2 separate regions of the Homo sapiens genome follow, and region 2 is linked to region 1. Evidence: fine-mapped expression QTL. A gene starts in region 1. The other region holds a variant in brackets. All regions are shown on one strand. Distances are between the middles of the regions. Region 1 holds the start of RAPGEF1 (Rap guanine nucleotide exchange factor 1). Region 2 overlaps RAPGEF1 (Rap guanine nucleotide exchange factor 1).

What was found. PIP is the estimated chance that this variant, and not a neighbour inherited with it, causes the effect.
Region 2: its variant is the best candidate, but not a certain one, in a credible set for the expression of RAPGEF1 in sun-exposed skin (GTEx, PIP 0.64).

Annotation. Positions count from the first base shown.
Region 1 is chr9:131,737,777-131,743,144 of GRCh38, reverse strand. RAPGEF1 (Rap guanine nucleotide exchange factor 1) reads left to right here and starts at 3,069. Exons shown (of 27, transcript NM_001377935.1): 1 at 3,069-3,375. The coding sequence starts at 3,315. RefSeq lists silencers at 2,846-3,105, 3,256-3,305, 3,356-3,685.
Region 2 is chr9:131,618,551-131,623,918 of GRCh38, reverse strand. RAPGEF1 (Rap guanine nucleotide exchange factor 1) reads left to right here. Exons shown (of 27, transcript NM_001377935.1): 11 at 1,921-2,123; 12 at 4,713-4,868. Among named protein-coding and RNA genes, the nearest start is that of PRRT1B, 76 kb to the right of the region's middle. RefSeq lists enhancers at 2,398-2,467, 4,361-5,327. The variant G/A (reference allele first, on the strand shown) is at 3,337.

The DNA of each region.
Region 1 (5,368 bases):
GTGTGTTCTACTATAGTTATAAACATCTTTGATGAATAGCCTTTATTAAGTAAGTTCTGTGACCCTGATTTACCATAATGTCCATTTGCAAAGTACTTTGTTGTTTGCAAATCTTTTGTCATTGGATATGTCATAATTTATTAAATATATTTGTGTTCTCACAAACCCCTGACTGCACCTAGTATCCATGCAGTCTAGTTTTCTACTTTTCAACCAGGATTTTGGATTTAAAATATCGGCTCTTCTCAGCTCAGAAGCCTAGAAGGGTTGGGGGCAGCATTGAGTGTGTTTTGGGGTTGGGCCTGGGACCAGGGGCCAGTTTTGCCTGGTAAGGCATCTGCCAAGAGGGCTGAACAGGGCCACCCTGGATCAGAGCATCCATTCATCAGGTGGAAGAGGGAAATGAATTTGTCAATCTTTGGATTTGCCTTTGACCTCTAGAGGGCTGCAACTGATGAAATGATGATGGGAAATTTGGCTGCCATCTATGACCATCTCCTTTTTTTTTTTTTTAAAGAGGGAGTCTCGCTCTGTCACCCAGGCTGGAGTGCAGTGGCGCGATCTTGGCTCCCTGCAACCTCTGCCTCCCAGGTTCAAGTGATTCTCGTGCCTCAGCCTCCTGAGTAGCTGGGACTACCAGCGCGCACCACCACGCCCGGCTATTTTTTGTATTTTTAGTAGAGATGGGGTTTCACCATGTTGGCCAGGCTGGTCTCGAACTCCTGAACTCAGGTGATCTACCCACCTCGGCCTCCCAAAGTGCTGGGATTACAGGTGTGAGCCACCACACCCGGCCTGACTAGCTCTTAGTTGTGGAATCGGTGACCCTTTAGACTGTCCAGGGAGATGGGAATAAGAATCTCTCACAACATTAGCAGTTTTTCCTCCTCCCTGCACCTCCCCCAAATCCTGTCCCCATCACTAGGTTATTTAATTTACTTATTTTGGGGGAAACAGGAGGGAAAACTAGCCCAGGTGGTGCGTGCTACTTCTTTGTATTCCATCTTAGACTAACAACAGGAAGCAGGCAGCAGAATTGCCCCACATTGGAACATCACTTGCGTTACTAATTTGTTGTTATTTACTACTTGTATTATAGGATTTAACTTTGACTTCCCAGCTAAGTTGTGAACTCTTTGGAGGGAAGCACCAATTGTGCCCACTTTTGTAGGGCCCACAGAACCCGAAATAGTGCTTAGACTTAGCAGATCCTTTGATTCTTAAATGACTTTTTTTTTCCTTTTTTTTTTTTTTTTTTTTAGCCAGGGTCTTCCTCTGTCACTCAGGCTGGAGTGCAGTGGTGCAATCATGACTCCCTGAAACCTCTGCCTCCAGGGCTCAAGTGATTCTCCCTCATCAGCCTCTCAAGTAACTGGGACTACAGGCAGGTGCCGCCGTGCCTGGCTAATTTTTGTATTTTTAGTAGAGACGGAGTTTCACACATTGCCCAGGCTGGTCTCGAACCCCTGGGCTCAAGTCATCCACCCACCTCAGCCTCCCAAAGTGCTGTGATTGCAGCCGTGAGCCACTGTGCCCAACCACGACTTTTTTTTTTTTTTTGAGACGGAGTCTCGCTCTGGAGCCACCAGGCTGGAGTACAGTGGCATGATCTCGGTTCACTGCAACCTCCATGTCCTGGGTTCAAGAGATTCTCCTGCCTCAGCCTCCCAAGTAGCTGGGACTACAGGCGTGTGCCACCATGCCCACCTAATTTTTGTATTTTTAGTAGAGATGGGGTTTCACCATGTTGGCCAGGATGGTCTCAATCTCTTGACCTCGTGATCCACCTGCCTCGGCCTCCCAAAGTGCTGGGATTACAGGCGTGAGCCACCGTGCCCAGCCACGACTTTTAATGAACTCATTTCCACACTAGAAAAGTTCCACAGCTGAGCCCCAGGGTGCCCTTCTGGATGTCAAATAAGCAGGGCAGGCAGGGTGTGCTGTGTCCCTGAGGGAGTTGGGCCCAGGCCAGCATGGAGGCTCTAGGCCTCAGGGGACATTTAGGCCTGAGTAGGGCCAACCCCAGCCCGGGACAGGTGGCTCTCGCTGGCAGGGTGACTGAGTCCCACATGCAGGGCTGGGGTGGAGAATGAATCCTCCGCCTTGGCATAGACCTTGGGCCAGCAGAGGGCTTTCATGCCAGAGTGGACTCATTCCCCGGCTGGAGCCTCTGGGCTGGCAGGAGGTGCTATGAGGCCACTCCCAGGCCCTGGTGTGGGGTCTCCAATTAAGAAGGGGGTGCGGGCAGGGTGCAGTGGTTCACACCTGTAATCCCAGCACTTTGGGAGGCCAAGGTGGGTGGATCATGAGGTCAGAAGATCGAGACCAGCCTGGCCAACATGGCGAAACCCCGTTTCTACTAAAAATACAAAAATTAGCTGGGCATGGTGGCATGTGCCTGTAATCCCAGCTACTCAGGAGGCTGAGGCAGGAGAATTGCTTGAACCCGGCAGGCAGAGGTTGCAGTGAGTCGAGATCGCGCCACTGCTCTCCAGCCTGGCGACAAAGTGAGACTCGGTCTCAAAAACAAAAAACAAAACAAAAAAGGGGGTGCTGCATCTCTGGTTTGGGGGAGGTCAGGACAGGCTCCCAGCCAGCAGAGCTTGTTGAGTCCTGGTGAGAGTGAGTTCTAGGCCCTGGTGTGGAGCCTCTGGCCCACAGGGGATGCTGGGTCCGGGATGATGCTAGGGTGGGGTGGGCGTCAGTTCCACGTCCTGGGGTGGAAAATCTGACCCAGGAGGGTTCTCTGTGTCTCTGGTGAGGGGGCAGGCCAGGCTCTTGGGCAACCGAGGACCCTGGGTTGGAGCTGTCAGTCCCAGGTCTGGAGCTGGTGACTCTGGTCCCACAGCAGAGGAATGCGGAGTCCCAGGCGGGGTCGGCCCCACACCCCAGGCCCCAGGCCCCGGCGTGGGGACTCCGGCTCGGCAGGGGGCGCTGCGTCTCGCGCGTCGCGCGGGAGGCTCGGGCGGCTCCGGGCCCACAGGGGGCGCTGTGGCGGCGCGGCGGGCGCCCGGCAGGTGGCGCTGTGGCCGTGGCCGCGGCCGAGGCCCGGCGGGCGGGCGGGCGGCGTCGCTGCGCTGCGGCCGGCTCGCGGGCCGGGGGAGCGGCGGCGGGCGCGCGGGAGGCGGAGCGGCGGCGGCGGGCGCGGCGGGAGCGGCTGGGCCCGGGCGGGCTGGAGCGCGGTCGCCGAGCGCAGGGCCGCGGCCGCGCGGAGCCCGCCATGCCGGCGCGGGTCTGAGGCGTGGCGAGCCAGGGCCGAGGCGAGCGGCGGGCGCGCCGCCCCTGTCGCCCCGCGGCGGCCCGGCCCGGGCCCGATGAGCGGCGGCCTCGGCCTCCGGCGCAGCCCGGAAATGTCCGGCAAGATCGAGAAAGCAGGTGAGGCGCGGGCGTGGGGCGGCTCCCTCCGGCCGGGCCCGGCCCTGGGGCTCCGCCGCTCCCCGGGCCGAGCGCGGGTCGCCCGGGATGTGCGGCCCTCCGTGCGCCGGGGCGGGGTGAAGCCACCGAGGCCTCGCCGGGGCGCCTGGCAGCTTCTCCTCCAGGCCCATTGCCTGCCGGGCGCGGGGGGAAGCGGCCGCTGCGGGGGCGCCAGGGGCCGGGCCGGGCGGGGCCCCTGCAACCCGGGGCCGGGCGCGCTAGCCGCTCCGCGGTCCCCGGGAACTTCCGAAAATGGCTCGAGCCCCAAGCAGGGGAAGAACAGCCCGGGCCGCGTGCTGCTGCGGCTGCAGCGATCGGTGCCCGGCCTGGGCTCGGCGCTAGGAGGGTGAACCCAGCTGAGCTGTAAAATGTGTCATTTCTAACGAGCTTCGAGTTTAACGAGAAGCGTCCACTTCGGTTGCTTCAAAGGAAGCAGGCTGGATGAGTGGGGGTATTTTGAGGAGGTAGTCAAGTTTCCCCTCCCCACCCCGATCAAGCTCAGCTCTGCAAGGAGGGCAGGTGGGGGACCGGTGGGTTGGAGTAGATGGTAAATCTTGATGCAGACCTCGTCTCTTTGTGTGTTCCTAGAAATCTGGGGGAGTTACCTTCCGAGTCCCTGGGTTTGCCTGTCCTGGAAATAGAGTCTCCAAAGATTCAATGACTGTCGAGCCTGTGGGGCCCCAGGCTTTATTAGCCTGCAGCACCTTGCAGGGCAAATGCGAATTCTTGGGTCTAAGGTGAAGTGGGCGGGTGCTCCTGGGCTCCTGTACTGGGAGCATGCCCTGTGGTCATAACCCCGGTAGCAGGTTAGCTTGGCGGCTGAATGAGGGAAAGCAGATTTTTAGGGAGCTGCAAAGGAGGTCTGTGGCTTTGATTGTGGAAGTTGCTTATGTTTCCTGGGTTGAATCTGGGATACTTCTGTGGGGTGCACCCCTGCAGCGGACCCACAAGGCAATATGACTTTTGCAGGCTGTGGTTGAAGCACAGAAGGACATTTTTGTAGGCTTTATTGAGGGTTTACTATATATCTAACTCTTAGCACCTAAAATGCATTGCTTCTTAAATTTTTGAAGCTAGTCTGTGGGAAAGAATATGGTCCCAGTTTTACAGGCTCAGAGAGGTTCAGTGAGTTCCGGCTGTCCAGACAGCAAGAGGGCGGCAGGCCCCTAGTATATTCATTCCTGGCCCTCTGACCAGAAGCCAGGGTGCTTTTCTCAGGGGCAGGGCGCTTGGGTTCAGGTGCCATTTCTTGAGTATTTTTCTCACTGAATTTGAGCCCCCACAGCCTTGCCGAGTGACCATGAGTCGCCATCCTGTACACCTGCTGCTCCAGAAATAACTTGGGTTCATCTGTGCAGCATTTCTCAGGAACTTCTTGTATAGTGTCTTGTCAGAACGGTACTGTTGGGAAACTTGGATAATTTATTTTAAAAAGAACATTCACTGAGTTCTTTTATAAGAACTTTATAATATATAAGATTATATTATATCTTTTTATATCTAATATAAGATTATATTATGTTTTATATCTTTATAATATAAGAATATTCTATGTTCATTGTCAAAACTTGGAAATCACAGAAAAGTAAAATGAACCGGATTGGAAATCATCTGTCAGCCAGGTACAGTGGCTCACGCCTGTAATCCCTGCATTTTGGAAGGCCAAGGCAGGAGGATCACTTGAGCCCAGGAGTTTGAAACAAGCCTGGGCAAAATGGCGAGACCTCATTGCTACTTTAAAAAAAATTTTTTTTTTTTTTTTTGAGACGGAGTCTTGCTCTGTTGCCCAGGCTGGAGTGCAGTGGTGCGATCTCGGCTCACTGCAAGCTCCGCCTCCTCCTGGGTTCACGCCATTCTCCTGCCTCAGCCTCCCGAGTAGCTGGGACTGCAGGCGCCTGCCACCACGCCTGGCAAATTTTTTTGTATTTTTAGTAGAGACAGGGTTTCACCGTGT
Region 2 (5,368 bases), 120 kb after region 1:
GCCTCAAAATTGCTTTGAGGGAAAGAAGGAAAGAATCATCACCCTGGCCGCGTGGCTAACGCTGGCCTGAGTTCATGCACGCTCAGTCCCAATGTCACGACGTGTCCTCATCATTTGGGATGCACTGACATCGTGAGGGTCCCCAGCCCCTCTTGCCCGGAGCAGCCCCATGAGTCCCTTGTGCCAGACGAGCCTTGTGATCACTGTCCGGCACCTGAAATCCCCACAGTCCCAGGCCCTGAGCACTGGCGGCTGAACCTTCCCAGCAATGCTGGCTGTGTTAGGAGCAAGGCCTCTAAAATCAGCCTCTGGGCTGCTTTTGAAATGGACTGGGTCCTCCTCATTTCTAGAAGGCTGGGAGCATCACTGCTGTTCTGTGCTTGGCTAGCAGGTGTCTACAAGGACTTCAACATCAAGAGTTCAGAAAGACCTCCTGAAGAGATCACAGTTTTACAGAAAAGTCAGGCAGAGATGGTTGTGTTTAATCTTTTTCTTTTTTCCATAGCTCACTGCAACCTTGAACTCCTGGGTTCAAGGGATCCCCCCACCTCAGCCTCTTGAATAGCTGGGACCATAGGCACATACCACCATTGCTAATTTTTTTCTTTTCTTTTTTCTTTTTAGAGACGGGGGTCTCACTATGTTGCCCAGGCTGGTGTTGAACTAGCCTCAAGTGACCCTCCTCCCTCAGCCTCCCAAAGCACTGGGATTGTAGGCATGAGCCAGTGCGCCCGGTCATATTTAGTCTTTTTAGGGAGCAGTTTGTGGGTGCTTGGGATCACCTTCCTAGGCTTGCCTCTTCGTCTGGAGCCTGGTGACATTGGTTGTGCAGCATTAAAGAGGAAGTGTGGGGCTGGGCTTGGTGGCTCACACCTGTAATCCCAGCACTTTGGGAGGACGAGCCAGGTGGATTACCTGAGTTCAGGAGTTCAAGACCAGCCAGACCAACATGGCAAAACCCCATCTCTACTAAAAATACAAAAATTAGCTGGACACGGTGGTGCATGCCTATAATCCCAGCTACTCAGTAGACTGAGGCAGGAGGATCGCTTGAACCCATGAGGTGGAGGTTGCAGTGAGCCGAGATTGCACCACTACACTCCAGCCTGGGCAACAAGAGCGAAACTCTGTCTCAAAAAAAAAAAAAGGAAGTGTGAGACAAGCTCAAGGGGCTGTGAGCTGCCCTTTCAGTAGCAGCAGCTGACCTCAGAGGGGAACCATTTCTTCCTGTGCATCTTTTACAACCAAGTTCTGCTCGGTGCTTGTTGGAGCTAGTAAGAAATTCTTACATATTCTTTTAAATAAAGAAGGTGACTTTGAACACTTTCCTTCAGTGACACTCCTGGAGAGAGAGCATTTCCTCTATACCTGGACCCCCAGTGTGGCTCAGGGAAGAAATAAACTCCCTACCTCTGTGACTGTCTTCCTCAGCTCAGTGTCTGGCCTTCCTTGATTTGTTGACTAGTTGGGGTTTGCAGAGAAGCCTCTGGCTTTGTGCTTATTTGAAGATACAAAATTTAGCACTGCAGAGCCACCACTTTTTCTTGGCATCTGAATCTCAGCTCCACCTGGCAGCTGCTCGTGGCACTTGCGACATGCCTCGAGGGGAAAGTGCCTGCTCAGGAGGTAGCTGAGACTTGCCATCCCTGCACCCGCCATGTGCCCTCGCTTGAGTCCCCAGTTCACATTAGGGTTCCCCATTGGTGTTGCGCGTCTGCCGGTCTGGACGTGTCTCCTCCGTTAGCGCATCAGACAGAGTGTGATTTCATTGCCCGAAAAGTCCTCCGTGCTCCGTCTGTTCGTCCCTCTCTGAGGTGCTTTCAGTGGAAAGCCCCCTAGCTGCTGTGGGAAGAATGGGGGGAGGGGTTCCCTGATGTGGCCTCCCCCGGCCTCGCTGCAGCTTTCTCCCTTGTTTCACAGTGCTGGCCTACATGCAGTTGCTGGAGGACTACTCGGAGCCGCAGCCCTCTATGTTCTACCAGACGCCACAGAACGAGCACATCTACCAGCAGAAGAACAAGCTCCTCATGGAGGTATACGGCTTCAGCGACTCCTTCAGTGGGGTGGACTCCGTGCAGGAGCTGGCCCCGCCGCCCGCCCTACCCCCCAAGCAGCGGCAGCTGGTGAGTGACACCTTCCCTTGTGACTAGAACTTCCGATCCTAGCAGGTCTCTAGGAACCAGAATGACCCTCCTTGGGGGCAGGGTTAACCCTCCTCCCTGCTGTGGCAGGGCCCTGGTTTTGGGCGTGGAAGGCACCATCTCCCACACAGATGCTTTTACTTCCTCCTTAGATGCTCACCAGCAGCCCAGCGCCCACTCCACCACCTCCCCACCCTGGGGTGCAGGGACCTTTCTTTTCCACAGCAGCCCCGCGCAGCAGGGACAGGCTTGTACTCAGGGTGTTTGCTCTCTCTGCTGACAGTCTCTTGTATTTTTTTCTTTCTTCTTTGGCTTCAACATAGACCTCCCAGAAAGGAGGGACTCAATCAAAGCACAGGACATGGTCTGTGCACAGCCATCTGTGGACTTGATTGGCATAATGGGCCTAACTGTGTAGAGTGACTTACAACCCAGCCTTGGCCGGGGAGGGCCCAAGGAAAACAAGTGCCATTGAAGTGGAGGATGGCTTTAAACAGAGCCACTCTGTTTCAGACATGGCACCTTCCTCTTCTAGAAAACACTCGTGTGCTAAGGACTCCTGTGCATGTAAGGAAGCACGGGCCAGCACAGAAGGCAAGCTGTTCCACCGTGGGCACCCCATGAGGCTCTGGAACTGCCCAGGCACTGGGAGGGTGAGCAGATCGGGGGTACCTGTGGCATCCCTCCAAACTTTCTCCCTTTGCTGCCAGTTAATGAACATGGAGGGCCCTAGTCAGGTTTGAAGATCTGAGCCTCTTGTCCAGCCATGCTCCCCAGGAAGAGGAAGCTCCCCAGCAGGGAGCTCCAGGCTTGTTCAGAGCTGCCTGGGCTGCTGCTCTCGTGTGCTGGCCAGTCTGGTGGCTTCTACCAGGAGGCGACTGGTGTGCACTGGGCCATCTTTTATCCATTGCGAGAGGACATGAGGGGCCATCTGATTCTTCTGGGAGGCAGCTGCAGACTGGAGGACAAATGTCCCTGGATTACTCCGTATAATCAATCACCTGGGGCTCAGCCCAGTCCCAGGAGTTCCTGAGCCTTCCTATACTCAGTGGGCTGTGGCTAACCAAGCAAGCTGTTTTGTTTCCACTCAAAAACCACACTCAGCCACTTCAGAGGTGGCCATGTCCAGTAGAGGAAAGGCCAAGCTTGGAGTTGGGAGTCCTGAATTCCAGTCCTGCCACTTGTTAGCCGTGTC[G/A]CACGTGCCATTTTCAGAGTCTCAGATCCTCACCTGCCCTGCCCGTCCCACAGACACAATTGAGAATGTGAATCTCAATTGCTCTGAAGATGTTTCAAAAAGGGTCCCACCATGGAAACATAAATGCCTCATTTAGAGACCCCTTGCCTAAAATGTTTGGTTAGAACTGTTGCCGAGAGCCAGGAGTGGTGGTGGCACATGCCTATATTCCCAGCTACTTGGGAGGCTGAGGTGGAGGATCACTTGATCCCAGGAGTTCAAGACCAGCCTGGACAACATAGTGAGACCCTGTCTAAAAAAAAAAAAAAGCCATTGCTGAGCCAGATTTATTGAAAATATTTTCGGCCCATTTGCCATCCTTGGGCATCTTCTCCATACTGTGGAGTCCACAGGCTTCTGAATATTTGGGGAGACACCCCTAGGGAGCACGTGGAATCAGAACCTGTTCTACCACGCCTGCAGGGCAGTGGCGAGCTCAGCCCCCGGAGGCCTGTTAGGAACATCTGTGTTGAACACCTCCCCAGGTAAGCACCAGGGCTCTCATCTGGCTCTACATGGTCCCTGCCACAGCTCCTGGCATCCCCATTATAAGTAAATTGAGGCAGACAGAGCCAGCGAACCTTAATCCAAGCCCACAGCTAGAAACAGAAGACCTGGGAGCCACACCCAATCCTAATGACAGCCCAGGCATACCACCTGACAGGTCCTGCCAGCTGCTGGTCACACCCTCTCTCAAATGCAGATGCAGGAAGCGTTATCCACACTTCACAGACAAAAATGGTGCTCATTACACACACCTGTTGGCCCATGTACAGTGTGGTAAGCAATATTTCAAGTGCTTCACACGTATCATCCCATTTCATCCTCCCAACAGCCCTGTACAGGAGACACTAGGGTTATCCCCATTTTACAGATGGAAAACCTGAGGCACGGAGACCTTTAAGTAGTGCCCAAGGCCAAACGGGTGAGAAATGGCAGGGTCCAGACTCAAACCCAGGCTGCCGGAGCCCCGTCTGAGTTCTGAAGACGTGTGAATGACACATGGATCCACTCCCCACAGAGGAGCAGCTCCAAGCCCAGAGTCAGCCCAGTTCTGTGTGGCTCCAGCCCCCTCGTCCTCCTTCCACCCAACCTGCTTCCAGTGGACACAATTTTTAGGATCTAGTGTAAGGAAATGAAGGAGGGTGCCCTTTCATGCAGATGGCCTTCGGCAGCTGGTTTTAGTCCCTGAACTGGGCCCAGAAGCCATCCCTCTCCAGAACGTCTGTTAGAGGATGTGGAGAGCAACCTCCACGGCCTTTCCCTGCACGGACCTGACTGTTCTCTGCTTCTCTCCCTCCTTCCCTGCCTTCTCTCTCCTCCCCTCTGTCCAGCAGGCCTCCTGTGCTGCTTCTTCCTTCTCCTCTGTCTCCCACTGTGTCCAGCAAACTAAAGTGGCCTTCACCCCCGAGGACGGCAGTGCCGCTCAGGGCCTCAGTGTGTCCGTCTCTAACTCCTTTCTCAGCCGGCACGGCAGCTTGCCCGTGCCCTCGGTGAGTTGCTCCCTGCTGTTCTTTACTTGGAAACGCGTGAACAGGGCCGTTCCTTGGAAGCGTGTGCCTCAGCCATGTGTTCTGCTGCCCGTCGCGGCCCCTGCCCTTCTGCGGGTCCCTACACCTAGATGGGAAGGCTATGAATGGTTGGTTCTCTGGGGCCTTAAAGACCATGAGGCATCCAGGTGAGGCAGGGGCAGGCATGGGAAATGTGAGTGGCCACCTTGGGAGCATCACCAGTCTGGCATAAACTGACAGAGACATTTTAGCCTTTTTATCCCAATCTCGCTTTGGACCTTGGATCAGCCCTCTGTGTTCCAGGATTAAAAAGGAATATAGCCAGGTGTGGTGTCACTCACCTGTAGTCCCCACTCCTCAGGAGGCTGAGACAGGAGGATCACCTGAACTCCAGAGTTCAAGTCCAGCCTGGGCAACATAGTGAAACCCTGTCTCAAAATAAATAGATAAGATAGATGAGATGGATGAGTAGATGGGTGGTA